Regions from separate parts of the Homo sapiens genome. Here all the other regions are linked to region 2. Evidence: fine-mapped expression QTL. A gene starts in region 2. Each other region holds a variant in brackets. All regions are shown on one strand. Distances are between the middles of the regions.

Region 1 (5,148 bases), 37 kb after region 2:
AGAAATGTCCCTGAGGATTTAGGTAGAAGGATATTCATGCAGTATTATTTGCAATGGCAAAATACTGGAAACAGCCTAAATGTCCCAAAATAGAGAATTAGTTAAATTAATCATGGTAACGGCACGTGATAGAATATCAAACAATAACTTTAAAAGTTACATTTTTGAATGTACTTTTCTTTTATCACATGGAAAAAATATGCTAATAAAAAGTAAGATATAATGGGACCTGAATTTTGTTGATAGTTGATAGATGGGTAGACAGATCTCTCATATATATGTAAATATACATTACATATACTAACTATAAAAAACATACTTACCCACACAGAGAAAGACAGAGACAGAGAGAAAGACAGAGATGGAGAGATAGAAACAGAGAGACAAATGGGAAAGAACAAAGTATACCCCAAAGTACAGTCTGCTAGCAGTAGCCTGAAGTCTTTCTGACCACTTGGCAGCAGCTTGGAAAATGTTCCTCACTACCTTCATGGAACCTATCATAGCATAAGAACCAGCCCAAAGTAAATGGATGGGACTTTGAATTTTTGTTTAAAAATGATGGCTTGTGCCTGGTCAAAATGGTGTGTGAATGGCTTATGCATTGATATATATCGATTGGCATAAGTCAGAGCGCTTCAGACCTGGTCTCGGTCTAAGAGATCCTCAGTGGAGACGTGGCGTCTTTGGTCATCTAAGGTCCCTGCAGCATCACAAAGGGAAAGGGCGGCATCTTCTAGTGTTTACACAGCCCAACAGAAATCCTGTGTTCTTGTAAGGAGGTGACCAAGGTGGACCTGAACCTGGATTTTGTCTGGTTTTATCTGAAACTAGGCAATGCTGTTATGTAGGTTGTCAGACCAGCAGCTCTGCAGCTGGCTATATGTGTCTTTGAGTAATAAGAGAATCACTAGAGGAATTAAATGAGACTAACCAAAGGACATTTGATTGGTATGCAGAAGTCTTCAAAACAATGTGTCTCTTAAGAAAAAAAAAAAAGAAGGTTGTCAATAGTGAAAAGATAGGTGAAACCTACACTTTCTGCACTGCACCTGTCGGCCTTCCTTCCTGTCTGATCTTTCAGGACCCATGGAGAAAGTGTAGGTCTGACCCAGAAGGCTGTTGTGTATAAAGAGGATGATGTTGCCTCCCATAGAGGGATGTGAGGATTGTATATACATAAACACAGCTCAAAAAATATGCACACTGTGTGACTCAGCACACCCACTCCCAGATATACCCAGCAGAAATGCTTACTGGTGTTCACCAAAAGATACATACTAGGCTGCTCCTAGCAGCACTACTTGTAATACCTCCAACCAGAAAGCTACCCCAATGCCCATTGAAAGTAGAACGGATAAGTAAATTGCGGCACCTTCGCATGATGGGCTACTATTCAGCAATGAGAATGAACAATCTAGAACCACATGCAACAAAACTATTTTGAGTCAAAGAAACCAGAAATGAAATAATACATGTTGTAGGATTCTGCTTATAATTTATACAGAAACAGTCTAAATTAATAGTTCCTATACTGTTAAAAGTTCACCTTTGGTTGGGCACAGTGGCTCACACTTGTAATCCCAGCACTTTGGGAGGCTGAGGTGGGAGGATTGCTTAAGGCAAGGAGTTCAAGACCAGCTTGGGCAATGTAGCAAGACCTCATTTCTAAAAAAAAAAAATAGCCAGGCATGGTAGTGCATGCATGTAGTCCTAGCTACTTGGGAGGCTGAGGAGGGAGGATCACTTGAGCCCAGGGGTTGGAGGCTACAGTGAGCTATGCTCATACCACTGCATTCCAGCCTGGGCAACAGAATGAGACGCTGTATTGAAAAAAAAAGTTCACCATTGAGGGTGTTAAGGCCTAGAAGGAAGCCTGAGAAGGGCTTCAGGGTGCTAGCAGTGTATCTTCCTGTTTGATCTATGTGATGGTTACATAGGCATGTTCAGTTTCTGAAGAATTCATTGGTTTCTATACTTAGGGTGTTGCAGTTTTCTGTATGTATATTATACTTCAATAGAAAGTTAAAAAAACTAGTGCCTGGAATATAGTGATGTCACTTATTAACATCATTACTCTAAAGCTAATATTTATTGGCAAAGCCCTATGTCTGAGGCTAGACTTGAAAGGGGAAATGAAGAAAGAGGGTAAGGAAGGAGAAGAGGAGAAAGGGAAAGAGGGATGTGGTGGACAGACCTGTAGGGTGCCCCCTACCCAGGACCCCTGCTTACTGGTGCCCATGGCCTTGTGTGCTCCCCTCCCCTCAAGGGTGGGTGAGGTCTATGAATTGCTTCTAACCAACAGAATATGACAAAGGTGAAAGGAGGTATGTGATTATATCACACACAGCATAATCGTGCAGGAATTTCAGTTCCTGGCTGGCCGTGAGGAGGCAGGTAGCCCTGTTGAAAACCCCATGTGGCAAGTAACTGCAGTAGCCTCCAGCTGACTGAAGCTCTCAGACCTACTACCTCAGAGAATGGATGCTGCCAACACATGTGAGCAAGGAAATGGATGCTTCCCCAGTTGAGCTTCCAGATGAGAACACAGCCTGGCCGGCACTGTGAGTATAGCCTTGTGACACCCTGAACAGGGAGTCCAGCTGTGCCTAGATTCCTGAACAGTGGAAACTGTGAGATAATAAATGTGTGTTGTTCAAAGCCACCAAGTTTGTACTAATTTTTCACACAGCAATCAATAACTAATACAAGGGAGAAGGCCACATAGCCATGCACATGATGGGTGCAAAATACGATGATATGAATTGAAATTATGCCCCTAGATTTCAAAGTTTTCCCATTCAAAATGACCCTATGAGTTGGACTTCACTCCCATAGTGGCTGGGCGTCCATCTCCCAGCAGGGCCAAGCCTGGAGTCACTATGACAGAGGGCATCAAGTCAGACACACCTGTGTTTGGATCCTGGCT[C/T]TACCAGCATTGGATTTTAGGCATGTTCCTAATGCTTCCAAGTCTCAATTTCTTATGTGACTCATGGAGATGGTAATTTTTTTTTGTCTGGCACAAGGCACACAACAAAAACTAGTTTTTTTCCTTCCTTATACAACAACATGTTACTACATATACTCAGAAGCACAGGAATCAGACAGAGTGAGAGGCCTTCTGGAACATTCTATGCCAACCTGAAGCAGAGGGATGAAATTAAAGCCACCACAAAAAGAAATGGAGCAAGATTTCCCTCGATTAAGGCTTTGGACATCACTCAATTAGAGGGCTCCCAATCTAGGAGCTTCCATCCTGGGACCACAGCACACACAAACACACACACACAACCCTATACAATAAACTACACCAACTCACACATGCAGATCAATACGCCAGGGCAAGAGAGAAGGAAGCAGGCAGGGCAGTTTGCCAAAGGCAGAAATCTGTGTGTGGGATGTTGAGCTGTATTTCTGGTCCAGTAAATCAATCTGCCTTGAAAGGGCTCCTCCAACTTCATGACTGTAATTGGAGCTACCTTCCTCAGGGGTTGTTTGTTACATTTAAGGTCAGGTGACAAGCACTGTTTTTCAGAGTCTGCACAGTCACTCTGCATCTGCCTCTGGGAAAAGTTCTAGCAATATCTGGAGAATCAGCTAAAAATGAGTATGCCTGAAGGCTGTTGAAAAGTTGGGAGAAATGCAATTGGGTTAACTTCTGATTTCTCTCCTTGTCGGATTTCCAAAACTCACTTCAACATTCTCTCCAGGATGCCTCCCCTAAAACCAGGATCTATCTCCATTAATTTGATGCTTGTTAAGACTCACTGTAGCAGAGGCACCAGCCCCAAACTAACCCGATAATAATAATGGCTGCTATTTAGTGAGCCTTGATTTCATGCCAGGTACTGCACCAAGCAAGAATTTCCCATGCTTTAAATCTACAATAAACCTGGGGGCCGATTACTGTACATCTCTGCTTTTACAGAAGAGGAAACAAACACAGTTAGGTTAAATAGTTTCCTGAGGTCACAGAGCTGGTAGTTGACACAGTCAAGATTTGAACTGAGGTCCTTCTGACAGCAAAAATCATGCTCTAAGCAAGAAACAACACTCTGGACACACCTAGTGGACAACTGGTTGTAGGGTCATCAAGTTCCATCAATTGTTGGCCACCTGTGTAGGGCTATACATGAATGTTAAGGAATGGTTCCTTGTTGCAAAGCATTTACAGTCTAGTGGAGGACGACAAAGAACACTCATATAAGAATTATTAACAACTCTAGCTGCATGAATCTGTGTGAGCACACTAGTGGAATTTGGAGAGACAAGCTGCCTGTTAATTGGTAGGGTCAGGAAGTATTTCTCACAGCAGAGGGGACTGAGCTAGAGTGGGGTCAAGGATGCACTAGACATGATGAGTGAAAAGAATAAGGTGGGCATTCAGGGTCTTCTGGGCACCATGTGACAACGGTGGGATGGAGGGATGGGCAGAGAGTTCAGAGCCACAGTCGGACGGGATGAGGATTGTGAAGAGCAAAGGCGAGAATAAGGCCGGATAAGAGGGTCAAGCTGCAGATGCCATGCCGGGCAGAAGGTGGCCTTCATTCTACAGCCAACATGGAGTTTGCTGGAGGAGGTATGGGGATTTTACACACATGGGAGGACGTCCAGTCTGTTAGCCTGTTAAAGTGGCCACATTTGCAGTGTTGGCAGAGGCCAGGGGACAAACTCTTGGGCTTCCTCCTCCCCACCTCCCCTCGCCCTCTCCCAAGGACTCAAATGAGCAGTTGAGATATGGACATGAGTTGGGAGTGGGAGCTTCTCACTTGGAGGCTAGAGCCAGATCTTCAGACTACTACACCCCTCTGTCTGCCAAGCCCAGGTGCTCAGTGGAGGGCCATGAACAGAGGCCAGCGTGGCTCCTTCTCATCTCCATAATACAGCCATGTTCTCTGCAGCCTCAATGCAAACAGCTCCTCATTCACCTCTGCCACAGACAGAAGACGGATCCTGGCTGTGGAACCTGGATCTGGGAAGCTTTAGTGGCAGCACCTGTTTTTGGCTGGAGGTGTTTGTAACACCTTGTAGGTATTGTCCCCTGGGGCAGCATGGACCCCTCTACCTGCTTTGAGACTGTGGATGACCTGCATCTCATCAAGGACCGAGGCAGATGGGGACCTGGGCCTGGATTTCTACTACAGAAGC
Region 2 (5,123 bases):
GTTCCCCATGACGAGAGCCTCCTGTCTGCAGTGGCCATCCTGAGGATAGGGCAGAGTGCCCAGGGTGGCCCCAGGGCTTCTAAAACCCCACCTAGACCACCCTCCATGTCAGGTACTGAGCAAGGCCCCAGATCCTTCTCTCTGGAGGAAGAGGGAAGCCCAGGGGTCCTGTTTGTAAAACAACGGTGGCAACAGCTCCTCTTCCAGAGCTGCCTCTGCCTTTATCCTGGGAGATGGGGAGGAAGCCCCATCTCTGCTGTTCCCTGCGTGGAGGAAGCCCACCCAGCAAGCTCTCTCCTACCCCAGGTAAAAGGTGCTCCTTTGCCTGGGTTTGAATTCCAGCGCTGCCACTTCCTCTCTGCACCTCCTGGCAAGTTTCTTCTATTCCCCACGTTTAAAGCGATGGCACCTCCGTCCCAGGGTGGTGTGAGGATTACCCAGTGTGGTAGGTGCTCAATAAATGTTGGTCATTGTTATCACTGAAGCCCAACATGCTAGTGCTTCTAGACCCTTCTGTCAGTGCTGATAAGCCCTTGCTAAGTCCCAGCCCCTTCATGCTTGGCTGGCGTCTGCCCTAGGGCTGGGGTTCTCAAGCCCCTGGCCCTGGCCCAGAGATTTGGATTCCCTTGGCGGCCGTGGAGCCCAGCCTTTGATGTCTTTCAAAGCTTCTGTGGTGCGCCCTGGATTGAGAACCACCACCCGAGGGGTACAGCCCCTCTCTTCCAACCGAGAAGTTCCTGTCCCAGAATGGACCCAGGGACAAGAGACCCTGAGAGCCCTGGGACTGGGAGTGTCTGCTCCTCTGAGGCCAGGAGGCCGGTGCTGGGCCAGAGAGGACGGCGTGGCGAAAGTCAGCGTCCACTGCAGCACAGGATCAGATGGCCGTGTGCTGTGCATGCAGGAGCCTCGCCTTCTGTGTCTTTAGTCTTGAGCCAAAATTTGCTCAAAGACTGATCTCTTCCTTGCAGGGAACAGCTTTGGGGCTGGGGGAACTAGAACCCACATGTTGGTCTAAACCCTGAGAAGGTGGCAGTGAGGAAGTATCCCCTCAGGTGACTGGATCTGTGTTCCTCCTTAACATCATCTGATGGAATGGCAATGAAAAGCGTGGATTGTGGAAAATACAGAAAAACATAAAGGAAAAAACTCCAATCCCCTGAGCCCACCACTGTTCAGGACCCCTGCTTTTGTCACCTACTATTTCCCTTTAGTTTTTAGCAGCGGCTGGATGTGATATGTCTAGTTTAACCAGTCCCCTTGATCTTTCTATATAATAAATAACACAGGAGTGAACATCCTGAATCAGATCTTAGCAGAGATGCTCACATGCGGGGTAACTGTCCATGGTGTGTGGAGGGGTCCTCGGAACCCCCTCTTAGGATCATCTCCACATACTCTCCCAGTTCTGAGATTCGTTACCAATAGCAGGTTTCCGTCACACTGCGATATCAGAGCAGTGCAGGAACTCTCCGCTCCAAGGGGTTTTTTCCTCCTAGGGGAACACTCTGCTAAGTAATGGGCAGAGAACAAAGGGGCTCCTAATTCAAGGCAGGCCTAAGGGAGGGTCAGAAAGAACTTTAGCTGGAGGTATTTACAGATGTGACCTCGAATCCTTGGGGATTCTTGGAAAATGGGCAAGGTGCCAAAAGAGGAGAACTGGCCAGGCCTTCAAAACTAAAACACCAGAGAATTACAGACAGCGAACTTGCCCCTAAGCCCTCGTTGTGGGTTTGTGTTTGAGCATTTAGGAGAGGACTCCAGTGCTCCTCAGCGACAGACACAGCTGCCTCTGCGGTGTCTGAAGGCCCTGGTCGTGGTGACGCTAGATGGCCGCCCTGGGCGCCTCCTGTGGGCGTAGAGGCATCACCACTCTGCACTGGCAGACTCAGCATGGAGTTGGAGCAGAGTCTGACACGAGCACTTGCCATCCCAGGCGTTTCAGTTCTGACTGAGAAGGTAGATGCACAGGGGAGGAGAGGGCCCTTTCGAGCTCCACTCTGCCTCCACCACTCATTCCCTAACCCCGCAGCCTCAGCGCCCTCATCTGTAAAATGGGGAGTTTTGCCTACAGGGTTCAGCACAATGCCAGCCTGACATAGGAACCCCAGTGGATTGTCAGTTTTGCCATTATCCCCTGCATCCTGGAGGTGACACCGCCTGGTTAATAGGCAACACTCCCGACGGCCCAGCACAGCCCCAGGGCAGCAGGAGGCTGGCCTGTGGCCAAGAATGCATGGTGGAGGGGGCCTGGAGGGGGACTGCAGCTCCTCCTCTTCCTGCTTCCTCCCTGCTCCACCCCGTGCCTAGGGCAGCACAAAAGCCAATCGCTAGCAAACTCCCTGCCTAGCAAGGCCCAGCCTGGGGCAGAAATGGCTGCAAGTGGCCGAGGTCTCTGCAAGGCTGTGGCCGCCTCTCCCTTCCCGGCGTGGAGACGAGATAACACGGAAGCCAGGGGAGGTCTGAAGCCTGAGTATGATGCGGTGGTGATAGGAGCAGGTAAAGTGGTAAAGCAGGCCGGGCCAGAGCTGAGGGGCGGGAAGACAGCCCTGCTCAGAGCTTGGTGGGGAGGGGGAGGGGGAGCCAAGCCCCACTGCTCTCTCCTCTGGCATAACCCAGCCAGAAGTTTATACGCTAGCAGGGGCTGCAATGGAAAGCCCTTCCATCTGGCAGGCAGGCACCTGGGATTCCGGTGCTGGCTCTGCTGTGTGGCCTGGGGCAAATGCTTGCCTTCTCTGGGCTTGGATCTTCCCATGGAGAATGACAGGAAGACTAGGTGAGCTCAGGGGTTTCCCTATATCTCTTGCAAAGTGACCTAGTTTCCACCACATTCTCAGCCTATGGTTTGTAAGGGTTGGAAAGAGCCCTGGGCCAACAGACAAGTGAAATCCAGCACCCCGCCCCCTCAGTGCCCTGAGTTCTGGTCACCACTACCTTACCACTGAGGCCACCCCTCGTCACAAGAAACTGCAGTCATTTCATAAAGGCCAGTTAGGATAAAACAGAACTGAGTCCCAGAGTTCCTACTGCGTGTCTGCAGAGGGAGATGGACCCCATTGCCTTGCAGCTCTGGGACATTTGGGGATCTGCAGTGATCTGCCACACTTTGCCAACCCCTGGGCTCAGAGTATCACAGTCTACTGGGTGCTAGGGGAAGAGGCAGGCCCAGGACCAGGTGGTCTTTCCTTAGTGCCTTCCTTTCACACTTGCAGAGGGCCCCAAATGCATGATTGCCAACTGGGTCTATACAGAGATAATGACGGGACCGAAAGCAGACGGCACTCAACATGCAGCTTTGAGGGCATGCCTTCATTTTCATATGTACTAGAGCAGTTGCGAGCTGGTAGATACTCAACACTCACCTCTCCAGGGAAAAATGTGTGATGTATGTGTGTGTGTACATGTATATATATGTATATATACACACATATATGTGTATATATATGTATATGTGTTACGTACATATATATACACATATACACATGCTTATTTTAAATATTGAAATAAAAGATACACTGCACACAATTTTACAAATAAAGATACAATACTCTCAATTTAAATGCAGTCTACCCGAGTGATTCTTACCAAAGGCTTTCTTTGATTTTTGCCAAACTCAGTAGCCAACCTATAGTTGCAAATGACAAATGAGGGTAGCTCCAAAGAGAACGGTGCTCCATATTTTCTGTAAAGAGTAGGATGATCGTGAAACAAATGAAACAACAAAGATTTATGTCCCAACCTTACTCCTTTATTTTTTAAAATTTATTTTTATTTTATTTATTTATTCATTTATTGAGATGGAGTCTTGCTCTGTTGCCCAGGCTGGAGTGCAGCGGCGCAATCTCGGCTCACTGCAACCTCCGCCTCCTGGGTTCAAGCGATTCTCTTGCCTCAGCCTCCCGAGTAGCTGGGACTACAGGCGCCCACCACCACGCCCGGCTAATTTTTGTATTTTTAGTAGAGACGGGGTTTCACCATGTTGGCGAGGCTGATCTCAAACTCCTGGCCTTGTGATCCACCTGCCTCAGCCTCCCAAAGGGCTGGGATTACAGGTGTGAGCCACTGCGCCCGGCCTCCTTCTTTAAATGACAGGAATGATGTTACTCAAATAAGATAATATTGTTCTAATACTAGAATATTTCCTTCAATTTTTGTGCTATTTATTCATGCTATAACAGCTAACACTGTTAGGTTTAATCTGCATTATTAGCATTTTCCCATCACTTTCTTAAGCCTGACCACAAAAAATAAATTCAGCCCTTCTGTGTAATATTTGCTGATGACAGTGGTGTAAATACTCCCACCATAGCCTTTTCTGTTACCAAGATGAGGTTGCTCAATGTGATTTAGGAGAGATACCCAGTAGCACATCATTGTATAGTGTGTCCACCATGCAGATATGTACATAGAGGCCAGTGACTGCCAGGGCATGGGCAACAGTCAAATGTAGTAAAACAAATAGGAGGTAGTGTGTTTTGAGTATTTATTACCTTTGTTTTTAATTTATTTAATTGTAAGCTTATATAATTTAGTTTATATCAATGGCTGTTTGACAGCCGGCTCACAAACTCCCCGGGCTGGTGGGAGCCATCTCCAGCACCTCACTTAGCCTCAGAGAAGCCCCCTGCCTCCTTCCGTGCTCAGCCACAGCTCACCCTGCTGTCTCCTAATGGGGAAGGTTGACTTTAGGTCACCAGCTGCCTTGGTGACTTGCCTACAAGTGCGAGTGAGTCTCAGTGTGTGAGCTTTTCCTTGACATGATTTCTTTAGTTGCTAAACATACCATAAAGCCTGGTTTAAAGGCATCTTGGGCCTCAGTGAGGAACAGAACGGCATCTTCTGAGACAAGGGTTACCTCTGAGTCCCTGAAGGCACACTGGCACCTGGCCGCCACCTTGAAGATGAATCTCATTTAGTCATTTGACTAAATGTGCCTGAGAGTGACTGAGGGGGCTTGTTAAAATGGAGATTCCTGGCCCCATACCTGGTGACGAGCATTCTGAGGGCGGGAGGTGTCTCCCAGAGGTCAGCACATCCACCCAACCAACACTGCCTGATGCAGGCAGCTGCAGAGCCCACGCCCAGAGCAGCTCCTCAAGGGCCCAGGCGCCTGCTATGGGGCCCCT
Region 3 (5,148 bases), 29 kb after region 2:
CTGGGACGAGCAGGAGAGAGACGCTTATGCAGACAGAGGTAAAGACAGCTGCACGTTCTGCCTCCAGAGCCACAGCCGGGCATGCGACCCAACTGGGCCTGCTCCTCCTCACTGCCCCATTCAGGATTGACAACTGCAGGTGCCATTCCAAAGGGAGGAAATAGTCAAGGGAACCTCAAGTCAACATAGTTGACTGCAGGGGTCAGGAACTGGGCTAAGAAAGTCAAGAAGACACAGTTCCTGCCCTCCAGTTGCTCACAGTCTAGCAAGGGATGGAGGAGACTAATTAAGAAACCTTTTATTACAGCACAGCTGACTGCACGAACCAAAGGAGACGCATGAGCCAGAGAGACAAGGAAGGCTTTCAAAGGAAGGGATGGTCAAGCTGGGTTTCCAAGGATGACTAGGAGCTGGCCAGGCAGCAAAGGGCATTCCAAGCAAGAGAAACAGCTTGATCAGGCCAGGCGTGGGGGCTCATGCCTGTAATTCCAGCACTTCGGGAGGCCGAGGCAGGCGGATCACCCGAGGTCAGGAGTTCAAGACCAGCCTGACCAACATGGTGAAACCCCGTAGCTACTAAAAACATAAAAAAATTAGCAGGGTGTGGTGGCACATGCCTGTAATCTTAGCTGCTCAGGAGGCTGAGGCAGGAGAATCGTTTGAACCCAGAGGCGGAGGTTGCAGTGAGCTGAGATTGCGCCACTGCACTCCAGCCTGGGTGACAGAGTGAGACTCCGTCTCAAAAAAAAAAAAAAAAAAAAAAAAAACAGCTTGAGAAAAGTGAAGAGGTGAAAAAAGCTGCATATGCAAAAGGAGATCAGCAGCTTCGTGTTTAAGGTTGGGGTAGGGAAGTGGGGAAAACTGGGGACTGGACTGGCCTACCCATGCATCTTTGGGATGAATTAATCATTTGCTTGTGGACTGATTTTTGTTTTTCACCTATTGAGGTATAATTTGCATATGATAAAATAAGCCCATTTCTGTGTGTAATTTAATGACTGTTAGTAAATTTGCCAAGTTGTACACCCATAGTGCCTCCTCTTCTTCCTAACACCATCTCATTTCTCTGTTTTTGGCACCCCAGTGTTTGATTGCATCGAGGTCTATGCCCCTGGCTTCAAGGACTCTGTGGTTGGCAGAGACATCCTCACACCACCAGATTTGGAGAGAATCTTCGGGCTTCCTGGAGGGGTATGTATAAGCCTAGGGGGTCTCTCACCATAGCCTTCCCTCTGCACCCTCACTTCCTGGCTATGACCTCTCTGCTTTATCTTGTCCCTCCATACTCAGCTTTCATCAGGAAGGGAGGACAGTGGCAGGGACCCCGGCTGAGAGAGGGCAGAGAAGCGGTCAAACCGAGGGAATGGGGGATCCCTAGTGGGGGCTCAGAAACACAGGCAGGACAGCCCCCACTGAGAAGGTCACCAGGATTGTGGCCCTCTGCCTTGACAACTATGCTGGCTCTGCCATCTGACTTTCTTGAGAGAGAGCACCCCCTTCTCAAGGCAGCAGCACATCCTCAGACTTGTCAATTTATCAAAAACTAGAGATTGGAGACAGGGAGACCAGATAGGAGGCCAGGTTCAATCGCCTCATTGCAGCTACTGAGCACTTGAAAGATCAGAGACCACCCTAGGCAACGTAGTGAGACCCCATCTCTACAAAAACAAAAACCCCGCCAGGTGTGGTGGTGCGTACCTGTGGTTCCAGCTACCCAGGAAGCTGAAACAGGATGATCGCTTGAGCCCAGGAGTTTGAGACTGCAGTGAGCTGTGATGCGTCATTACACTTCAGCCTGGGCAACAGAATGAGACCCTATCTCTAGAAAGAAAATTTAAAAAAAAAGCAAAAGAAAGATCTGAGGCCAAAGTGAGATGTGCTGCAAGTGTAGAATGCACACAGTATAGAAAAAAATGTAAAATATCTCATCAATAAGTTATATATTGATTACATGTTGAAATTATAATATTTTGGATATATTGGGCTAAATAAAATATATTATTGACATTAGTTTCATCAGCTTGCCCTTCCTTCCTTCCTTCCTTCCTTCCTTCCTTCCTTCCTCCCTCCCTTCCTTGTTTCCTCCCTCCCTCCCTCCCTCTCTTCCTTCTAGAGATAGGTCCTGTTCTATCACCCAGGCTGGAGTGCAGTAGTGCAATCACGGCTCACTGCAGCCTCGACCTCTGGGGCTGAAGCCATCCATCCTCCCACCTCAGCCTCCTGAGTAGCTGGGCCTACAGGCATGCACCACCACACCTGGCTAATTTTTTTTTTTTTTTGTAGAGATGAGTCTCCCTGTGTTGTCTAGGCTGGTCTCAAACTCTGGGGCTCAAGTGATCCTCCCACCTTGGCCTCCCAAAGTGCTGGGATTGCAGGCATGGGCCACCACAACCGGCTCTGCTTTTACTTTTTAAATGTAGCTACTAATAAATCAAAAACTACATATGTAGCTCCCATTACATGTTCACTGAACAGCACTGGTCCAGGTATAGAGGAAAGAAGGCCAGGCAGCGGGAAGGAAGGGAATGGCTGGGTACAGCAGGCATGGGGCGGGCAGACTTGAGAAGCCTTGGTGACAGTGTGCACATAGGAGTCAGGGTGGAGGTGATGTGAAGGGTAGGCACAGAGGCCAGGGGGAGGAAGGTGGTGTCATTCACTTATGCAGGAGGATGGGGAGGAGCAGACTCGAGGGAAGAGGATGGCCTCAGTTTGGGGAAAGGTGAAGAGGGCAGTGGGGGAGCACTCCTGTGAGGATGCCCAACAGACGTCAGGCTTCTTGTCCAGACCTGCCCCCTGAGTCTGACCTTCGCTTGTCCCATGCTGCCTCCCTTCTCAGCCTGGGGCTGGTCTCACCCAAGCCAGGGGGGCAGAACCGTGCTCGGGCTCCGTTGCCCCTTGTCTGCCATTCACAGTGATCCTGCTGGAGCTTGGACACCGGGGTCCGGGCTCAGGTGGATGCCTTGGCCAGAGAAGGGAGTTCTCGCAGAGACGCATGCCAACAGCCACAATAAGTCAGACA[A/G]TTCTGTTTTTCCAACAGAGGGAGAGGGATGCAGAGTAGAGAGCAAAACCCTCTTTTCCTTCCCGTTCAGTTCGTGTTCCCCACCCTGCTTTCTTCCTCAAAAAGCCTCTGGAAAACTTCACTCCCAGCCCCAGGGCATGTGCCCATTCCGTCTCATCTCCTTCCCTTTCTGCATTTTAAAACCCAAGAAAATATCCTGGAAGGAGAAGAACATTTGCTGAAGAACAGGGGAGGGGAAGAAACCCAGCCAGAGCAGGAAAGGCTGTAACTCTCCTGTGCTGATGACTGTGGCCCTGCCTCTGCAGAACATATTCCACTGCGCCATGTCCCTGGACCAGCTCTACTTCGCCCGCCCCGTGCCCCTGCATTCTGGCTACCGCTGCCCTCTCCAGGGCCTGTATCTCTGTGGAAGTGGGGCTCATCCTGGTGAGTGACCTGGAGTCCCACTACCCTGTGGGGACTGGGAGGGCTCACTGGAGGCCAGAGACTTGGAGAAGGAGGAAGTTAAGCAATGAAGGTGGCAGAGAGGGAGGGGAGCAGGGAACTCCCAACATAAGCTGCCCTGTGTTCAGAATTATCCATGCACAGGTGAGCACACAGCCGCTGCCTCCACCAGGCTGACCACAGCCCACAGTTGAGCTCACACCTCCCCTTCAGGAGGCCTGGGGATGCATCCTGGTGGAGGCATCTCACCACATTCCAATGTGGGGTTGTGAGAGACCCATGTCCCTAAATTCCCCATCCGTATATATATTTAGACAGGGCTTCACGCTATCGCCTAGGCTGGAGGTGCAGTGGTATGATCACAGCTCACTGCAGCCTCAACCTCCTGGGCTCAAGTGATCCTCCTGCCTCGGCCTCTGGAGTAGGTGGGACTACAGGTGTGTGCCACCATGCCTGGCTAATTTTTTATTCTTTTGTGGAGATGGGTTTTGTTAGGTTGCCCGGGCTGGTCTCGAACTCCCGCGCTGAAGTGATCCTCTCCACTCAGCTTCCCAAAGTGCTGGGATTAGAGGCCTCCATCCATATTTTAGACCAGGAAGGATGGATAAAGTTAACTTCTTCAACTTTACAATTCTTTCTTGTGCGCATTCCAAGCCTAACGGAGCTGGCTGAGGCTATTTGCTATGCACACTTTCTCTCAGCTGTGTAGACTTGGTACCCTGGAAAGAGTCTGGGCTTACACATCTTCCCCCTCCCCCCAGCCCCTTATTCTGAAATTTTAACTTCACTTACTAAGCGTGTGCCCATCCAGCACGTCCACCCTCAGCCGTTGAGACTGTGGGCTGTGGACCTGGCCCCTCCCCAGACCTTTGGTGCAGGAAGCCTGGAGGGAGCCAGAATCTATTGAGCGGCTGTCTTAGGTGATTCCAGTGCCCATGCCCCCGGACCCCTCTAACCAGCCCCACTCTGCTTTGTTGCTGGATCTCTGTAAGCCCTGTCCCCACCCCCACCCTGGCAGGTTTTTGAGCGGAGCTTTGGTTCATAGGAGATTCCCTTCCAGGAGGAGGTGTGATGGGAGCTGCTGGGCGAAATGCAGCACATGTGGCCTTTAGGGACCTCAAGAGCATGTGACCCTGAACCAGCTCTGACCCAGGAAGAAGACTCCACCCCTGAATTCCAAGTGCTCCATTGGATCAGCTTCCCAGGAAGTTCAGCTTCGGGTTAGTACATAAGGCCACCACAATGCTCAAGAAATTATTTTAGAAAAAACGTACGAGTTACATTTAGTGCAAGTTGACCTTATGCCCATGCCTCCATACATGGACTGGTTCTGTTTTATTAAAACTAATATTTCATACAGATTATTTTGCTTGTATTTTTTCTCTGTGTTAGTTGGTGGGATAGACTTCTCTGGGGTACTCATAATTCTTACATCAGCTAAGAAGCAGTCCATTTAAAGGCCAGGCATGGTGACTCATGCCTGTAATCCCAGGACTTCGGGAAGTTCAGGCAGGCAAATCACTTTGAGGTCAGGAATTCAAGACCAGCCTGGCCAACATGGTGAAACCTCATCTCTACTAAAAGTACAAAAATTAGACAGGCATGGTGGCGGGCGCCTGTAATCCCAGCTGCTTGGGAGGCTGAGGCAAGAGAATCACTTGAACCCAGGAGGTAGAGGTTGCAGT
Region 4 (5,148 bases), 74 kb after region 2:
AAGACTTACAAAAAATTATTTAAGGATAGGAGATGTTTCCAAATGTTGCAAATTTGCCTTCTATTTGCATTTACATTTCCCAGTTTACAGTGTTTTCACAAATACTAGTTCCCTTGTTAAATCCCCACAGTGACTATGAGCCCCCTGGTCTTATAGAGATGGAGCTGATGTGGTTCTATGGAGTTAAGAGAGTTGTCCAAAGTGGCATCTAGCATGAACGAGGATGCAAACCCAGGATGACTGGCTTGGCCGCCCTTGGCCACCACCTTGACCTTGAACCCATCATATCATCCCTCTTTTCTCTCTACTCCGTCACCCGCTCCTCATCTCATGGGCTCTCAGCCTCTTACCTTGACTCCTGCCTGCAGCATATATTCATCCCTGTCTGTGAGGGACTGGAATTGTTCTCCTTTTACCCTCTATGGTCTCCCTTCTCCCACCACAATCTGTGCTCAGCTTTAGGTCGCCTTTGGTTGTTGACCCAGGTAATATTCAGCTCAGACCCTGAGACTTGGCCTGGTGCTGGCCGATATGACCAGTATCCATAAGAAAGGATTTCAACAATCGCCACACAGAAGAATTATGCACACAAAACAAGAGGGTCTTTCTGCCACATCTCTGAACAGGAAAATCAATTCAACAAATATTTATTGGCACTTACTCTGTGCAAGGCATAGTCTGTATATTAAAAAGAGAAATGGTATGGCCTTGAGGTGGTGGAGAAAATAAAAACATGGTTCAACCGATTTGTAAATGTCTGAGAGACTACAGGGAACAAGGTAGACTCCATAAAGTGCTTGTCCAATCAAACTAATATCTCTATTTATTCCACAATAAGAATAATGACAGCTGGAAAGATATGTCATCCCTTTGGACAGGTGTATGACTTCTCTTCCAGAAGCCAAACAATGAGCTGCATCCAGAGGCGTCACTGCGCCCGAGGGAGTGAGTGGAGGGACCAGAATGCAGGCGGGGGAGGCAGGCACGGGCAGGCACCCATGGGACTTGACTTACAAGTGAAGTGGCTTCCATAGTTGAAGCTGCAGGGGGAAGGTTAGCTGGGAATGCTTGTGCTGATGGTTCCTCCCTGGCAGGAAGGAGGTTCCTGGAGTCTCCTCCTTCCAACTCTAGTATCCAATTTGACTCCATATAGATCTTGTGTGTTCTTTTTTCTTGTAGAAGAACTGCTGTGCATACCTTCAGGGCACAGGAAACTACAAGATTAAGTTATGACTTGCAGGACTGTATTTGTCTGATGGAAATTGCAGGTGGCTGGCCAGGCGCGGTGGCTCACGCCTGTAATCCCAGTATCTTGGGAGGCCAAGGCGGGCATATCACGAGGTCAAGAGATGGAGACCATCTTGGCCAACATGGTGAAACCTCGTCTCTACTAAAAAATACAAAAATTAGTCGGGCGTGGTGGCGGGCACCTGTAATCCCAGCTTATTCAGGAGGCTGAGGCGAGAGAATCCCTTGAACTTGGGAGGCAGAGGTTACAGTGAGCCAAGATTATGCCACTGCATTCCAGCCTGGTGACAGAGTGAGACTCTGTCTCAAAAAAAAAAAAAAGAAAAAAAAGAAAAGAAATTGCAGGTGGCTACATGTTCTCACTTAAAAAAAAGAAATTGCAGATGGCTGCATGTTCTCACTTATAAGTGGGCTAAGGAATGTGTACACATGGACCTAGTAGAAAGACACTGGGGACTCAGAAGGGTGGGATGGTGGGAGGGGAATGAAGGATGAGAAATTACCTAATAGGTACAGTGTACACTATTCAGGTAATGGTTACACTACAAGCCCAGACTCCACCACCACTCAATATATCAACATCACGAAACTACACTTGTAGTCCCCGAATCTATAAAAATAACAATTAAAAAAAAAAGAAACTAGAGGTAGAAATGAAAGAAAGCTGTCAGGCTAAAAAAAGTATCTGCCAGGGCATCCCATGGAGTCACAGAACTGCAGGGACCCCAAGGGCAAGTGACCACTTTGCAGCAAAGGGCACCAGCCTCAGCTGGGACATCTGCCCTGGCCCTGGCACACTGCCTGTGCTGGCTCACCAGCCCACCTTCAGGCAGCTCTGCTTATCAGCACACTCTTTCTTAATACTCACTTTCATCACTTCCACTCGGTGATGGCAGCTTCTGCTCCTTAAGGCCATAATGAACAAGCATAATTCATAGACTTTTTAGTGTTGGGGACTCAAATGCAAGATTAAGAACTCCTAGAGTGCAGGGACCAAATTAAACGTTTGAGATTCTTTTAAAATTATGAAAGAAATACAAGCTGCTGGTATAAAATTCAAACCGCACAGAAGCAGGCATAGTAAAAACATTCTAGTCTCCCTTCGCCCCTGCCCCAGAGACACTCACTATTAACAGCTTCCAGACTTTTTATTATGCATTTATATTAATGCGAGCTGTGATTCAGTCCAATTTGCACTTTTAAAAAGCTCTCTCTGG[T/C]TCCAGGGTGGAGGACAGACTGGAAGAGCCAGGGGTAAGAACAGGAAGTCCACTTGGCCAAGGTGAAAAATAACAGTGACCCAGACAAGGTGGCAGCAAAGGAGATAGAGCTGAGGGGGGAGATCCGATGTCTTTGGGGGTGGTAGAACCAGCACACAATTGCTGAGTGACTCACTGGACCAGTGTTCACGGTGATCTTCCCTCCCTTCTCTGCACTGCTCTTTTGTCCAAGTTCTCCCTGGCAACAGTCAGAGAAGCAGAAGGTTTTAAAAATAGACCTGAGCTTCCCCTCACCTGCCACCAGAACGTGGTCTCAGAATAGCAGAGCAAAAGACAGAGCAGAGAGCTGCCCCCTACTAGAGGCAAAGGAGACATTTCCTTTCAAATCTCTATTTTTAAATTCTGAGCACTTACTAGAAAGTGACCCGCTAATGTACCTGGGTATTTATTTCTTGATGGTTCCCAACCCGTGGGTAGAATTTGGAGAGGCTGGGTATTTGGGAAAATAACTGACTTGTACCACGTTTGCAAATGCCCCAGATTTATCCCTGGGGTGTGAACCTATTTGCGGATTTCTTTTCTTTTTCCTCTTTCTTTTTTAGATTGCCTGAGCCATTCCTATACATAGCCAGAGAAGAGGCTGACTGCAAATAGCTGCTTAAAGAAACAGAGCAATTTGGAATAAGCAAAAATAGCTCTTTGTGGTAACTTGAGTGTCTCATTTTCAATATTGATTTCCGTGTCCTCTTGAGTGTGGTTTTCTGGAACTGCATGGGCAGGCAGGTGATGGTACCACCCTGTTTATTTCCGGATGCACACAACACGCAGTGGCCCTCTGGTCACGTGTGCTTAAATACTGAAATAAACCCAGGGAGCAGACTTATTTTCACATGTGGTTGTTAAAACTGTGGGTACCACACTCACCTTGGCCCACAGATGTCTTACAAGGTCTTTCAGGTGCACAGAGCAGCCCATAGCAGATCTTCTATGGAATGTGATTCCTACCATCAGGTGCTACCTCAACTCCCTTTTTTTTTTTTTTTTTTTTGAGAGAGGGTCTCACTCTGTTACCCAGGCTGGAGTGCAGTGGCACAATCTCAGCTTACTGCAACCTCTGCCTCCCTGGTTCAAGCAGTTCTCCTGCCTCAGCCTCCCAAGTAGCAGGGATTACAGGCACCCACCACCACGCCTGGCTAATTTTTGTATTTTTAGTAGAGACGGGGTTTCTCTGTGTTGGCCAGGCTGGTCTTGGACTCCTGACCTCAAGTGATCTGCCCACTTTGGCCTCCCAAAGTGCTGGGATTATAGGCATGAGCCACCACGCCCAGCCTGAACTCCCTTCCTTTTGCTTATGTGTTCACTGCCCAGGTGAGTTTTGGAAATTAGTGGCATTACTTCAAAACAGAGTTTCACAACCAGGCCACACTTCAGACCTTTGAAGCCCTGGGGATGAAGTCTAGGCACACGCAATGTGAAAAAGTTGCGTCCAAGAGTCTGGTGTGCACCCTGGTAAGTCCTGTGGCTTTTGAACCAGCTACACTTGCACATACTGGGACACAGGGAGCATCAGAGTGCTCAAAAGACAAGTGTTAGAACCCCCAGGCAGCTGCAATAATACACTAGAAACCCCAGCCGGGACTTTGGAGAAGCACCCCACTGGCCTGCATCTCTCATTTGGAAATACTTTATCCACCATGCGCAGAAAGAAAAAAAAAAAACAGAAACCAAGTTGAGATTCATCCAAAGATGGATGGATTTCAAAATAATCATGCTGAGTAAAAGAAGCCCGACAAAAAATGAATCATATGGTATGCTTCCATTTATAAAAAGTTTAGAAAATGCAAGCTAATCGATAGTGACAGAGAGCAGATCCGTGTTTGCTGGGGGACAAGGAGAAGGGAGGGATGGATTGCAAAAGGGCAAAGGAAACTTTTTGGGGTGATGGATCTGTTCATTATTCTGATAGTGATGATTTTCACAGGTGTGTACCTATGTCAAAACTCATCAAATTGTACACTTAAATGTGTGTAGTTTATTGTATGTCTGTTATATCACAACAAAGCTGGAAAAAAGAAAGGCTACTCCAAAAGTGAGTTCGCTAGGCGGTGCTATTCCTGAGTCACAGGAAGGTCACTAGACTGTAAGAATAGTTCACCTTCAGCACTATGCCAGGCCCGTGCTATGCCTTTACAAGCATTATATCATTTAATCCTGAAACAACCCTAGGAGGAAAGGGAGGCGTAGAGATGATGAGTAGTCTGCTCAGATTCCCTCAGTGGGTCAGTGGAGCTGGGGTTGGATCCATGTCAAAATGACGCCACAGCCCAAGCTCTGAAATCCAAGGAAGCATTTTGTTCTGGCTGCACCACTAAATGGCCGTATGACTGAGTTGGGAGGGTCCTTAGGCAAATATCCTTTTGGGAACCTACATAATCCCCAAGCAATATCTCTTTATAAGAATTTCTTTGGGGGAAAAGTCACCAACCCCAAATTAGTCAAAGCTTGTAGGTCTTAAATAGAAAGCCAGCTAATATCTCATAAGTACAGTGTATCGTTTTGAACTTAGGAGTCACTGGAGGTTTGAAAGGTGCGTTGGGCTTTCAGCTGTATACTTGTTTTTTCACCCTGAGACAGAGTCTTGCTCTGTCATCCTGGCTGGAGTGCAGTGGTGTGATCTCAGCTC

Which allele goes with the higher level. Alleles are on the strand shown, and positions count from the first base shown. SD is a standard deviation of normalised expression in the study named. Not every link is listed here.
With allele C in place of T in region 4, the expression in macrophages of the gene that starts at base 2,323 in region 2 is lower (large effect, 1.0 SD a copy in Alasoo 2018).

What was found. PIP is the estimated chance that this variant, and not a neighbour inherited with it, causes the effect. A credible set is the group of variants that fine-mapping cannot tell apart.
Region 1: its variant is the best candidate, but not a certain one, in a credible set for the expression of PYROXD2 in whole blood (TOPMed, PIP 0.73).
Region 3: its variant is the best candidate, but not a certain one, in a credible set for the expression of PYROXD2 in whole blood (TOPMed, PIP 0.60).
Region 4: its variant is the best candidate, but not a certain one, in a credible set for the expression of PYROXD2 in macrophages (Alasoo 2018, PIP 0.68).

Annotation. Positions count from the first base shown.
Region 1 is chr10:98,374,974-98,380,121 of GRCh38, reverse strand. No RefSeq gene overlaps it. Among named protein-coding and RNA genes, the nearest start is that of MIR1287, 18 kb to the left of the region's middle. RefSeq lists enhancers at 4,321-4,820, 4,821-5,148. The variant C/T (reference allele first, on the strand shown) is at 2,930.
Region 2 is chr10:98,412,382-98,417,504 of GRCh38, reverse strand. PYROXD2 (pyridine nucleotide-disulphide oxidoreductase domain 2) reads left to right here and starts at 2,323. Exons shown (of 16, transcript NM_032709.3): 1 at 2,323-2,496. The coding sequence starts at 2,370. HPS1 (HPS1 biogenesis of lysosomal organelles complex 3 subunit 1) reads left to right here. Exons shown (of 20, transcript NM_000195.5): 20 at 1-1,307.
Region 3 is chr10:98,383,244-98,388,391 of GRCh38, reverse strand. PYROXD2 (pyridine nucleotide-disulphide oxidoreductase domain 2) reads left to right here. Exons shown (of 16, transcript NM_032709.3): 13 at 1-38; 14 at 1,085-1,191; 15 at 3,325-3,445; 16 at 4,524-4,824. The coding sequence ends at 4,594. Among named protein-coding and RNA genes, the nearest start is that of MIR1287, 9.5 kb to the left of the region's middle. The variant A/G (reference allele first, on the strand shown) is at 3,020.
Region 4 is chr10:98,338,064-98,343,211 of GRCh38, reverse strand. No RefSeq gene overlaps it. Among named protein-coding and RNA genes, the nearest start is that of MIR1287, 55 kb to the left of the region's middle. RefSeq lists an enhancer at 2,509-2,638. The variant T/C (reference allele first, on the strand shown) is at 2,466.